Homo sapiens: one gene and its partners. The protein of the gene in region 1 interacts with the protein of each later gene in a biochemical or structural test. Each region holds a gene or a part of one and is shown on either strand. Other genes may lie near its edges.

Region 1 (3,754 bases):
AGACACTGACAGGTTAAGACTGTAAAATGGCTTCAGGGCGTGCCGGTGCAGGTTTGAGAGGGTGATAATCCCTGTTGCACTGTCAATGACAAAATGTTTATGATCATTGCCAGACAGAATGGAATACTGCAACTTGTCTATGTCTGAACTGTCTGCATCATAGGCTTTTACACAGGTCACGAAATGCCCATGAGGGGCGTGCTCGCTAATTCTGGCTTCATAAATCTGTTGTTCAAAGAGTGGTGGATTATCATTGAGGTCGGTAACGTCCACCGTGACAATCACATCACTGCTCAGCGTGGGCATACCACCATCAACTGCCCTCACAAAAATCGTGTGCTGCCGGGACTGCTCGTAATCCAGGGTTCTGAGTAGTGAGATGAGGCCAGTGCTGCTGTCTACATGAAAATGATCATGACTCTTGCTGTGATTCCCAAACATCTGGTATGAGATTCCTCTATTTGGTTCTGAATCAGAATCGGTGGCTCTAACTTGAACAACAGACGTTCCAATTACAGATGCCTCAGACAGGGTCACCGCATAAGACTGCTGAGCAAACACAGGAGGGTTATCATTGATGTCGTCTACTATGATGTCCACAAATACTTCAGCATGAGCGCCCGTCAAGGAGTCAGTTGCGCGTATGCTCAGCTTATATGCCGGGTGGGCCTCAAAGTCCAGAGGAGCTATGACATTGATAACTCCAGTATTGAAGTTAATAGTGAACTGGCTGAAAGGGTCTCCGTCTGTGATGCTGTAGAACACTTTCAGGCCTTCCGGGCTGTTAGCCTGCACGTGGACCACAGGGCTGTGCACCTGGATGCTCTCTGCAATCTCTGCACTGTAGAAAGGTTTTTCAAACACAGGCATGGCTTTATTCATGACAGTGATCGGAACGATAACTTCCGCTGAAAAGGCCGGGTTCCCTCCATCTTTTGCAACCACTGTAACAAGATATTCTTTATTTAAGGTGTCAAGCTCAAATTGCTTTTTCAGTGAAATTTCACCCAAGGGTCCAATTTGAAAGTGTTCATGATGTTCCTTGAGGTAGTAATGCACTTCCCCGTTTCTGCCACTGTCTCTGTCTACAGCAGTGACATAGCGAATGACATGGCCCACCTCAGTGTCCACTTTAACAACGGCGTAGTAGGGAAGGTTGACAAACACCGGCGCATTATCATTTTGGTCTTCTACAATGACCTTCACGACAACGTGGGCCACTGCAGAAGGCTTATGTTCCTCTGTCACTTCTACAACCACATCAAACGCCTCCTGCTGCTCACGATCGAAGGGCGTGCCAGTGGTTGACAGAACTCCTGAAGTGCGGCTTATTTTAAATCTGCGATCTGGGTTGAGGATGTGATAAAACAAAGGCTCATTGATTGGATTCCCAATAGCAGTAATGACAGCTAATGTTTCGGCCTCGGTGGAATTCTCTTTCACTACCGCAGAGTAGACATCCTGGGTAAACTTTAGGTGACTTTCTTTGCTTTCTTTCACATTAATTTTGACAGAGGTAAGGCCGGCAAATCTGCCATCGGAAGCTCTAACGGTTAGCTCGTAGCGGCTTCTTAACTGAGTTGTGTTTTGGACAGTGAGAGCACCAGTCTTGTAGTCCATAGAAAACTTCTCCCCGATGTTGCCTTCGGTGATGGAGTAAATCAACTGTGAGAATGCACTTGAATCAGCATCTGTAGCATTTACTGTGATGACTTTTACTCCTTTGTATGTTGGTAACAAAAGAGATGCTTCATATAATGGCTTGGCAAACACAGGGGGGCAGTCATTAATGTCAATTACATGTACTGTTACATTCGCTGCATACTCAGCAAATAAACGTGGGGTTCCCATGTCATGCACTTGGACGGTAAAGTGAAAAATACTTGTTTCTTCATAGTCCAGACTTAGTACTGTATGAATAGCACCAGTGCTAGAATCAATAGCAAAATATGTGTGTACAGATGGTTCAACAATGTGATATACAAGCAAAGCATTTGAGTCTTTATCAGCATCAGCTGCTCGAATCACCAGTGGGACATTCCTGTCTGTTAGGACCACGCTGTTAATTGAGGCTGATTCACTAATGAGTCCTGTATATTCTGCCTGCATAAAAACTGGCGCGTTGTCATTCTCATCCTGCAAGTGAACTAGAACCGTTGTATTAGTGGACAAACCAGCCATGTTAGTTCCTTGTATTATCAATGTGTAAATGGGCAAAGTTTCAAAGTCCAGGGCTTTCTGAGTGATGATAGTTCCAGAATGTGGATTAATATCAAAAGCATCACCTGTATTTCCATCTTTTATTTCATACACCACTGATGATTGACTATGGGCTGTAACCATCCCAACGAAACTCCCAATGCTGACAGTTTCACTAAGTTCAACAGAATATTCTTTTGATGTAAACTTCGGAGAGGCGTTGTCAGCAATTGTGACAAAGATACGCACAGAAGTTATTTCACTCATTGGTGGACTGCCCTTATCTGTAGCTTTTACCATTAAATCATACTCCGCTTGGTTACTTCGATCTAATTCTTTGGCAGTTTTAATAGAGCCCAAGACAGGATCAATCATAAAAGAATTTCCAATATTTCCTGGAAGGAGAGGAAAAAATACATGTTACAGAAAAACACAAGGGGCAGTAGTAGTAGTAGTTAGAGAAACAGAAACAAAGTATCCTTAAAAATTATATTCTGAAATTAAGCAGAAACTCAGGGGATGTCAATATTTGAATGGAACCTTCAACTTGTTTTATTTTTATCCACCTAAAACCAGGTATACTTTACAGAATTTTGTCCATAAATGATGAAAAACAAAAAACAGAAGAAACAGCACTCTGCTCTTAGCGAAGCCAAAACTCCCTCTCTCGGCTGCACTGGGAATGTGTGGTGGAAAGACAAGGCTATCCTTCCACAAAGCAGTTGAGTGAGTCACTTTCCAGGAGTCCCTCAAAACACTTCTGGACCACATTTGTATTTTCAACGGTTATGACTTACAAATTCTTAAGATATGTATTCATTACGAAAGATTTCGATTCAGTAAGAAATTGACATCAAGCTTCAAGAGACAATTGTCCATGGATAAATGTGTGTAACCCACCCCACTTTACAGGTTTTGAAGATTGCAACAACATTCCCTTCTTATCTTTTTCAGGTCAACTTATCCTCTAGGTCAGTGGTTTTCCCCTGGGGGCAATTCTGCTCCCTAGGAGACATCTGGTAATGCCTGCAGACATTTTTGGTTGTCACTACTTGTCGGAAGAGGGTGCTCCTGGCGTCTCGTGGGTGGAGACCAGGGGTGTTGCTAAGCATCCTACAACGCACAGGACAGCCCTACACAACCAAAAATATCTGGTTCCAAATGTCAGCAGTGCTGAAGCTGAGAGGCTGCTCAAAGATAGAGTGTTTTACCTCCTTTTCTTTGGACCTTTTCAGGCTATACTGTATGTATCTTTAGCTGCAACCACAACTCCAGAATATTGTATAATTTTGTATCATCGACTGAATCTTCAAAGAAACAAGCAGTTCTCTACAGCCCTTTTGGATAAATCAGGGTGGCGTTGCAGGTTCTCAGGTTTAATCCATCCACGAGCCCATCCTTTTTCTGTTTCATGAACAAGCACCCAGAATTCACCATCCCTGTCATAGCACAGAATTTATTTTCCCCAAATGAACTATTATACTTACCCAAAACAAAGCTCACTTGCCACTTAACTGCTTTCTCAGATTCTTGCTCTAGGTTTGCCACGAGTGTG
Region 2 (3,754 bases), on another chromosome or scaffold:
AGACCTGAAACTTTGCAATGCCTCAAAATCACTCAACTTTTCAAAAACAAACAGAAATATTAGCCACGGGTCATAAGGCATTACAAATATGCAACACAAAAAAACTGCACATTTCATTCCACGAGATACGACCTGAGATATAAATCTATGTAAAATGTTTTATAGTCATTTAAAAACTACATCAGAAAAAAATTATATCAGAAAACATTAAGCACTCGGCACTCATTTTCCCTACTCTTCTGTCCAGTTAGTCATATTAATCTGAAATAACAATCCAGTAACTAAAAATAAATACTTCAACTAAACACTAAAGACTGAAAAAAAAAAAAATCACATGGCAGTAGAGAGGTTAGACCTTTTGGGATATAACCACCTTTTCTTCTGAGATGTTTAATCACTCAAAACTATAAACTATGAATAAGGACAGTTTCTTCTGTCAACCCCTTAACTCCCAAATTCACTATTTTATGACCCATAGTTAGTGACTCTGCTAAGAACATACCATGCTCTTTGCTACATTCTTACCTCTCCAATGAAATGTCCTAATTCTGAAAAAGCCCCGTTCAGCCAACTACACATCTCTCAGTCACCATCCCTCCCCTCCCCACTTCGGAACCTTCCAGGGCCTGCCCAACTGTCCACTTCCTCTACCCAGCCAGAGTTCATTGTTCTGGCTTGGTGTTTCCACAGGATACAAGACACAAAACCAAATTGTAAATGATTTTTAAAATTGCTTTCTTATTCTACTTCCCTGATCATGTTCTTACTCTGCTTAAAACCCTTTAGTAATCTTCACACAGAAGAGAAGTGCTTTTCAAATTACCAGTTGCTAACACAGCGTCATTAAATAAATTGAGTGGGTCACCATCATCAGTCTATCTTAAAAATAAAATAGAACGGAACAGAATAGAAACTACCAGAGTGTACCATACAAAGCAAGGGTATTATGTAGTGACATTTTATCATTTATATACAAGCATATTGGGTTGCAATGTAAAGATGCTTATCTTTCCAACGGGTCATAGCCAAAAAAACCTCTAAACACACTAAACTACAGGATAATCCAATCTTTCATTTGATCTACATGGTTCTCCAACCCAGTCCCTGCATAATAAGGCTCTAGACCTATCTCTTGCTACACCAAAGGGAGCTAGCTCAAGCAAACAAGCTTGTCATGCCAAACTCCTTTGCAGTTCCTCGTTTTAGTGGTGTCAATCACTGTTCTCTCTGCCTTGAATGCCCTCTTATTTGTCTAAGAGGCTCACTTGTACTCATCTTTCAGTATTTAACAACTATCACCTCCTCTACAAAGCCTTTTTATCCTTCCCTCAGCAGCTAATGCCCCCCCAACACACACTTTGTGTCTCCATAATGCCCTACATTATAGCTCCTACAAAATTTCATTGCACATTTTAATTTTAGGCTTGACTGTCTGCCCAACTTCCAAAGTATAAACTCACTAAGGGAAGGAGCACATTGTATTGGCCTTCCTATCAGCAGCACTGAGGTAAGTACACGCACTATAACAAAGGTTCAAAGTTGGTAAAATGAACAAATGACGAATTAAGGACTTGCATCTAAGTTGTCTATTGTCAGATATGATAGGGTGGTTATCTTTGCAATAAAACCCATTTATAGTGCTGGATCAAGATTTTCACATTTTTGCTACAACCCCTAGAGAGCAGAACCCTGCAGTTTGAGGCAGAAGGAGGTGTCAGCTTCCCATCTTTCAGCAAAGAGACTCAGTTTGGGCTGCAATGTAGCAGCACTCATTTCCATGCTTCTGGAAGTTATTTGGGGAAAGAGGGGAAGGAAGGACTCCAGAAGTTCCCATAGGCAGGTGAGATAAATCAGAAACAGCATTAACAGATTCCATTAGCAGGGAGAGCCCCATTTTATGTATAAGTAGCTCTTAATAAGGGAAGGGAGGGAAAGAATTCTTTACCATTGCTGATGGCACTAGGTTGCCAAAATGAGCTAAGTAAAAACAAAGGGTTTCATGAAATAAGTGGTTGAAGTTACTTGATTTCTGTTGCCTACTGTGATAGTTCTGAAATAGCTACTGACTCACTGCTGTCATTATGAGATACTATTTGGAGGTGGGGGTGGGGGTCATACCTAACAGGGGCTCCTCACTGAGGCTTCAAAACTTTTCAGAGACTTCATTTTACATACATGAATGCCTTAATTTTTAGGGGATCTGATACACCTATTTTACAAACCCATACTTTAGTTGCCTTCACTGCAATTAACAGTTCATGCAACATCCAAGATACTTTGACAGACTTTGCCAACTGTCAAGTTTCAGCTGTTCTTCTCCATTTCCAAAAAGTTCATAAACTACTATTAGGGGAGCCATAATTTTTTTCTGCCCAATCACTGATTTTATTAAAAATAATTCCTTTGCTTAGACTGCCCCTAGACTTGCAATAATTATCTACAATTAAGACGAAGATAAATCCTTATTATAACCTAACATTAGTTTAAAAAAAGAAGGTTGTAATATGTGAAACACTTTACCCACAGTATTAAATTTTAGATATCTATTACAGTAAGGTAATTATGGATTGCCAAGGTAAAGCTTTAAAAGCCATTTAAAGCCCTGTTTCCTTTTGCTTGAAATAGGTCCAGGCAGCTATGCTAATTCCACAAACATTTATTAGGCATAAATACGCATAAAGTGTGGAAACGTCAGCAAATGCCTTTGCTGTATGCTCTTCTACTTCCATCTACCCTTCCTCTCTCTACTCAAGTCACTATCAATGAGAAAGGGTCATAGCCCCAAATACAGGCTTTCCAAAAAAAAAAAAATAGCACCACAAAATGCTCGCTCCTTTTTCTCCTCAGTCCATATATAGAACTTTATTAACTAAAGGGCAGATACATTCATTTATAAACAAATTAATTATGCTAAGTGTCTAAATGCATGTTATGTGTGGTGCTAACTTTCCCACTTTAAACAACAGCCCCCTTAGTATTAAATTCATCCTGTCTCTTCAGATTCTAGGCGCTTCAGGAGCCGCGCCTTAAGGTGCAGACATGGCCAAGTCCAAGAACCACACCACACACAACCAGTCCCAAAAATGGCACAGAAATGGTATCAAGAAACCCGAAGCACAAAGATACGAATCTCTTAAGGGGGTGGACCCCAAGTTCCTGAGGAACATGCAGTTTGCCAAGAAACACAACAAGAAGGGCCTAAAGAAGATGCAGGCTAACAGTGCCAAGGCCATGAGTGCACATGCCAAGGCTATCAAGGCCCTCCTAAAGCCCAAGGAGGTTAAGCCCAAGATCCCAAAGGGTGTCAGCCGCAAGCTCAACTTGCCTACACTGTCCACCCCAAGCTTGGGAAGCATGCTCGTGCCCGCATTGCCAAGGGGCTCAGGGTGTGCTGGCCAAAGGCCAAGGACAAGGATCAAACCAAGGCCCAGGCTGCAGCTCCAGCTTCAGTTCCAGCTCAGGCTCCCAAAGGTGCCCAGGCCCCTACAGAGGCTTCAGAGTAGATATCTCTATCTGCCAACGTGAGGACAGGACTGGTGCGACCCCCCGCCAGGCTGCCATCTGCATGGGGCTGTGGGGCTGGGGTCCTCCTGTGCTATTTGTACAAAGAAACCTCAGGCAGGGAAAAAAAAATTCATCCTAAGCTTCCCTTGGTAAAATGACAGGCATTCATGCAGCTTAAAGGTTCTGGAAAACTGATTTTCTTCCATGATGCTACTACTCCACAGTCTAGACAAAATGCAGCCATCAACAT
Region 3 (3,754 bases), on another chromosome or scaffold:
AAGGATATCTTCTGCAAGCCAGGAAGAGAACCCTCACCAAAACCCATCCATACTGGCAACCTGATCTCTGACTTCCAGCCTCCAGAACCTTAAAATAAATGTCTAGGCCGGGCGCTGTGGCTCCCACCTGTAATCCCACGAGGTCAGGAGATCAAGACCATCCTGGCTAACACAGTGAAACCCCATCTCAACTAAAAAATACAAAAAAATTAGCCAGGCGTGGTGGCAGGCGCCTGTGGTCCCACCTGCTCAGGAGGCTGAGGCAGGAGAATGGTGTGAACCCGGGAGGCAGAGCTTGCAGTAACCTGAGATCGAGCCGCTGCAATCCAGCCTGGGCGACACAGTGAGACTGTCTCAAAAAAATTAATAAATAAAAATAAAAAATAATTTTCTGTTGTTTAAGCCACCCAGTCTATGGTATTTTGTTATGGCAGCCCACACTAATACTTCAAGAGTATCATACACTACCCAGTGATTGGTATTTGAAGCACTGATAAGAATCAAAACAAAGCAGGGCTGGGGGCGGTGACTCACGCCTATAATCCCAGCACTTTGGGAGGCTGAGGTGGGCGCATCACGAGGTCAGGAGATCAAGACCATCCTGGCTAACATGTTGAAACCCCATCTCTACTAAAAATACAAAAAATTAGCTGGGCGTGGTGGCACGCGCCTGTAGTCTCAGCTACTCGGGAGGCTGAGGCTAGAGAATTGCTTGAACCCAGGAGGCGGAAGCTGCAGTGAGTGGAGATCATGCCACTGCACTCCAGCCTGGGCAAGAGTGAGACTCCATCTCAAAAAACAAAAACAAAAAAAGAATCAAAACAAAGCAAGCACTAAATGGGGTAAAAATAAATTAAACCAATAGAGATGCATATGCTTGTTACTTGAAAATATTTACAAGTTCTTTGGTCAAAGAGACTTAAAAACAGATTGATGGCCCTTTCAGTAATTCAGAATTTAATCATAAAGTCAAGTAAACATGGTATCCTCCAAAGGGCTTAGAATTTAGACAATCCTGACACTTGTAGCCACTTCCAAGCTCTGTGTTAGAATAAGAAATAAATTCTGGCCAGGTGAGTTCAAAACCTGCCTGGTCCACATAGCAAGACCACATCTCTACAAAATAAAAATTAAATTAAAATTTAAAAAAGAACAAAAGAAAACCAAATTCTACACCTATTCCTGGAGTCAGGATGTGAGTTTTTGCTTGCTTAATTAAATTATGTTATTAACATTTAGTATCCACCAAATACTACACTACACCCTACAATATCCAGTAGAGCTTCTAGAACACTACAGGTATTCCAAAAATGGGGTTGCTAGTGAACAGATTCTATAAAAGAGCAACGCAGTCAAAGTCAAACACTTACACAGGCCACCCACTATTTGCCAAGTATTTTGCTAGTACCATGAATATAAAAATGCTAGTATTTTGCTAGTACCATGAATATAAAAATCCTCTTCAAGGAACTTACAATGAAGAGGGACAAAAAGAACCACATAATTATAAGACAGAATAAATTCAATAGCAAAAAAACATGTAAAGTGCACTGGAACACACAGGAATAGTGGGGGACAAGGGGGTTGGGGGAGCATGTTAGGGGCAAGTCAAGGACTATATCCCAGGTCTGACAAGGAGTCCCCTTCTTGTTTCTAGTCAGGAAAATTTCGTAAACCCTTATCTGAAGAAGCATCCACTGAAGTACAGCCTCAGCTCATATTCTCTAACTTTTACTTCCACTTAATTCCATTCATCAATTTCAAACAAGGAGGAGAAAAAAGAGGAAAAGACAACTTTAAGTTGGCACAAGTAGGGTTTAAATACCCTTTTACTCCCCTACAACCATATAAAAATTGAAATCACATTTTTTCAAATCTTTCTTACACTCATGATACAGACTAGATATTTTACAAGTTATACAATCACCTGTTTTAAGCCTTCTGTAAGATAAATCACCAAAACCTATTCAGTATGTAATTTCTTCTATACCAGCCAAATGGTGCCTCCATAGTTATTTTGCTTAATCCAACTGGGCCAACAAGGTATCCAACACCTTGAATACTGAATAAACTTTAGTGAATTTTCTCTATTAATCCACACTCTTCTTCAAGATTTATTCACTTAGTAAATTCCTACAATACTGACATTCAAAAAATGAAGATTTGGCTCTTGCTCCTAAAATAAACCTCTGTGGGAAAGTCACACATCCAACAGCTACGAGTATAAATGAAGACCCATGGGAACAAAGAGACTACTATTTGTATCCTTTCATGGATATCTCACTTGACACTTCACAAAACAATCCTGTGAAATATAAGATTATCTCCTTTTTTTTTTTTTTTTTTACCAGTTTACTCAATTAACAGGTCAGCATATAAAACCTGGATCTTCTGACCCTTGATTGTACCACACTCTGAAATGTATATAAAATTTATGATTACCACAAATAAAGATACTTCAAAGACCCTAAGGAAGGAAACACAGAAGAAGGGAACAGCTTCCTCACCTATAAAATAATAAAAATGTGGTCTTTTTGACATCCTTGAGCTAAATAAGGTCGCAAGGTGGAGCCCACTGCCCAGAAGTTTTACCCAAATAGTCTAACATAGAAATAGGCCTGGAAACAGGAGGAGTAACATAAATTTAAGGCTTACCAGTGTATAAAGTACCTTCTATTATCATTTGATCCTCACTACTCAGTTAAGAATTATCTCTATTTTTACATATTTTTTAAAAAGGCATCAGTGAAATAATGTGATTACTTCAAGGTCACCCAGCTAGTAAATGGCTTGGACAAATCCTCATAACCCTACTATACCTTTTTATATGAGAAAGTCAGAGTAGCTAGTGGAAGCCTGGACTATTTTAATACGGATCCAAGAATGTAAATACAAAATCTTCTGAGCTCTCCTTAGCCACCAGGCTACATGCAACTATTTTAGATCAGACAAGCTCCTCTTTCAGTTAAAAAAAAAAAAAAATCTTAAGTAACAAACCAACTAATTTTAAAAATGCACTTAAAAGGCACACACTGTATGTACATGCATACAAACGCATTCACATACATACACGCACACTTTAATCACAAAGCATCTTACACTTTTGAAACATTGCATAAATGAAAAATAAGAATAGAACTAAACAGACAGGACACTAAAAGTACCAGCTTTTTGGTCTCAACCTTTCCACTGTCCTGTATAAGTAATATGCTTTTTCATTTTTTAAATATTCATCTTTAAGCAAAATATTAACAAGTAAATCTATATACTGCATTTTACTCAAATGCCTATGACCGTTTCAGGAACATAAACTATTATTCAGTTCTCTTCTGTATAAGATTATACACAGTGATCATGCTATTCCTAAAATTAAAGTCATCTGACAGATACCACTAATAGTTATACCGTAATATATTCATCATATCCTCTGTTCAGGATTCTGACCGACTTAATTGGAAATTCCTGTTCAGGCATTCCTATTTCTGGATGGCCTTTGAAACATCAGAACTACCTCTTAATATAACCAAAAAGGACTCAACTTAAAAGACTAACATTAACGTCCCACAGGACTTGAAAGCATGAAGACTAAGCATATATTAATATAACCTGAAAAGCACTTCCTAAGCACCAAAATATCCCAAAGAATATTCCAAAGACTTTTGCAAGCAGCACAAGAACGTTTTATCCCATACCAATCTCACTTTTACAGGTATCTAAGCAAATCTAAGTACTACCTAACCACCTGCCAAATAAT

Evidence for each region.
Region 2: the proteins of FAT1 (region 1) and HOMER1 form a complex in vitro, tested with the Homo sapiens proteins (one study listed by IntAct).
Region 3: the proteins of FAT1 (region 1) and ENAH form a complex in vitro, tested with the Homo sapiens proteins (one study listed by IntAct).

Annotation. Positions count from the first base shown.
Region 1 is NC_000004.12:186,619,182-186,622,935, forward strand, and holds part of FAT1 (protocadherin Fat 1 isoform 1 precursor), read right to left. Parts: intron 2,595-3,754; coding exon 1-2,594.
Region 2 is NC_000005.10:79,507,395-79,511,148, forward strand, and holds part of HOMER1 (homer protein homolog 1), read right to left. Parts: intron 3,624-3,754; exon of another isoform or gene 2,993-3,623; intron 1-2,992. UniProt on the Homo sapiens protein: Postsynaptic density scaffolding protein. Binds and cross-links cytoplasmic regions of GRM1, GRM5, ITPR1, DNM3, RYR1, RYR2, SHANK1 and SHANK3.
Region 3 is NC_000001.11:225,646,431-225,650,184, forward strand, and holds part of ENAH (protein enabled homolog), read right to left. Parts: intron 1-3,754. UniProt on the Homo sapiens protein: Ena/VASP proteins are actin-associated proteins involved in a range of processes dependent on cytoskeleton remodeling and cell polarity such as axon guidance and lamellipodial and filopodial dynamics in migrating cells.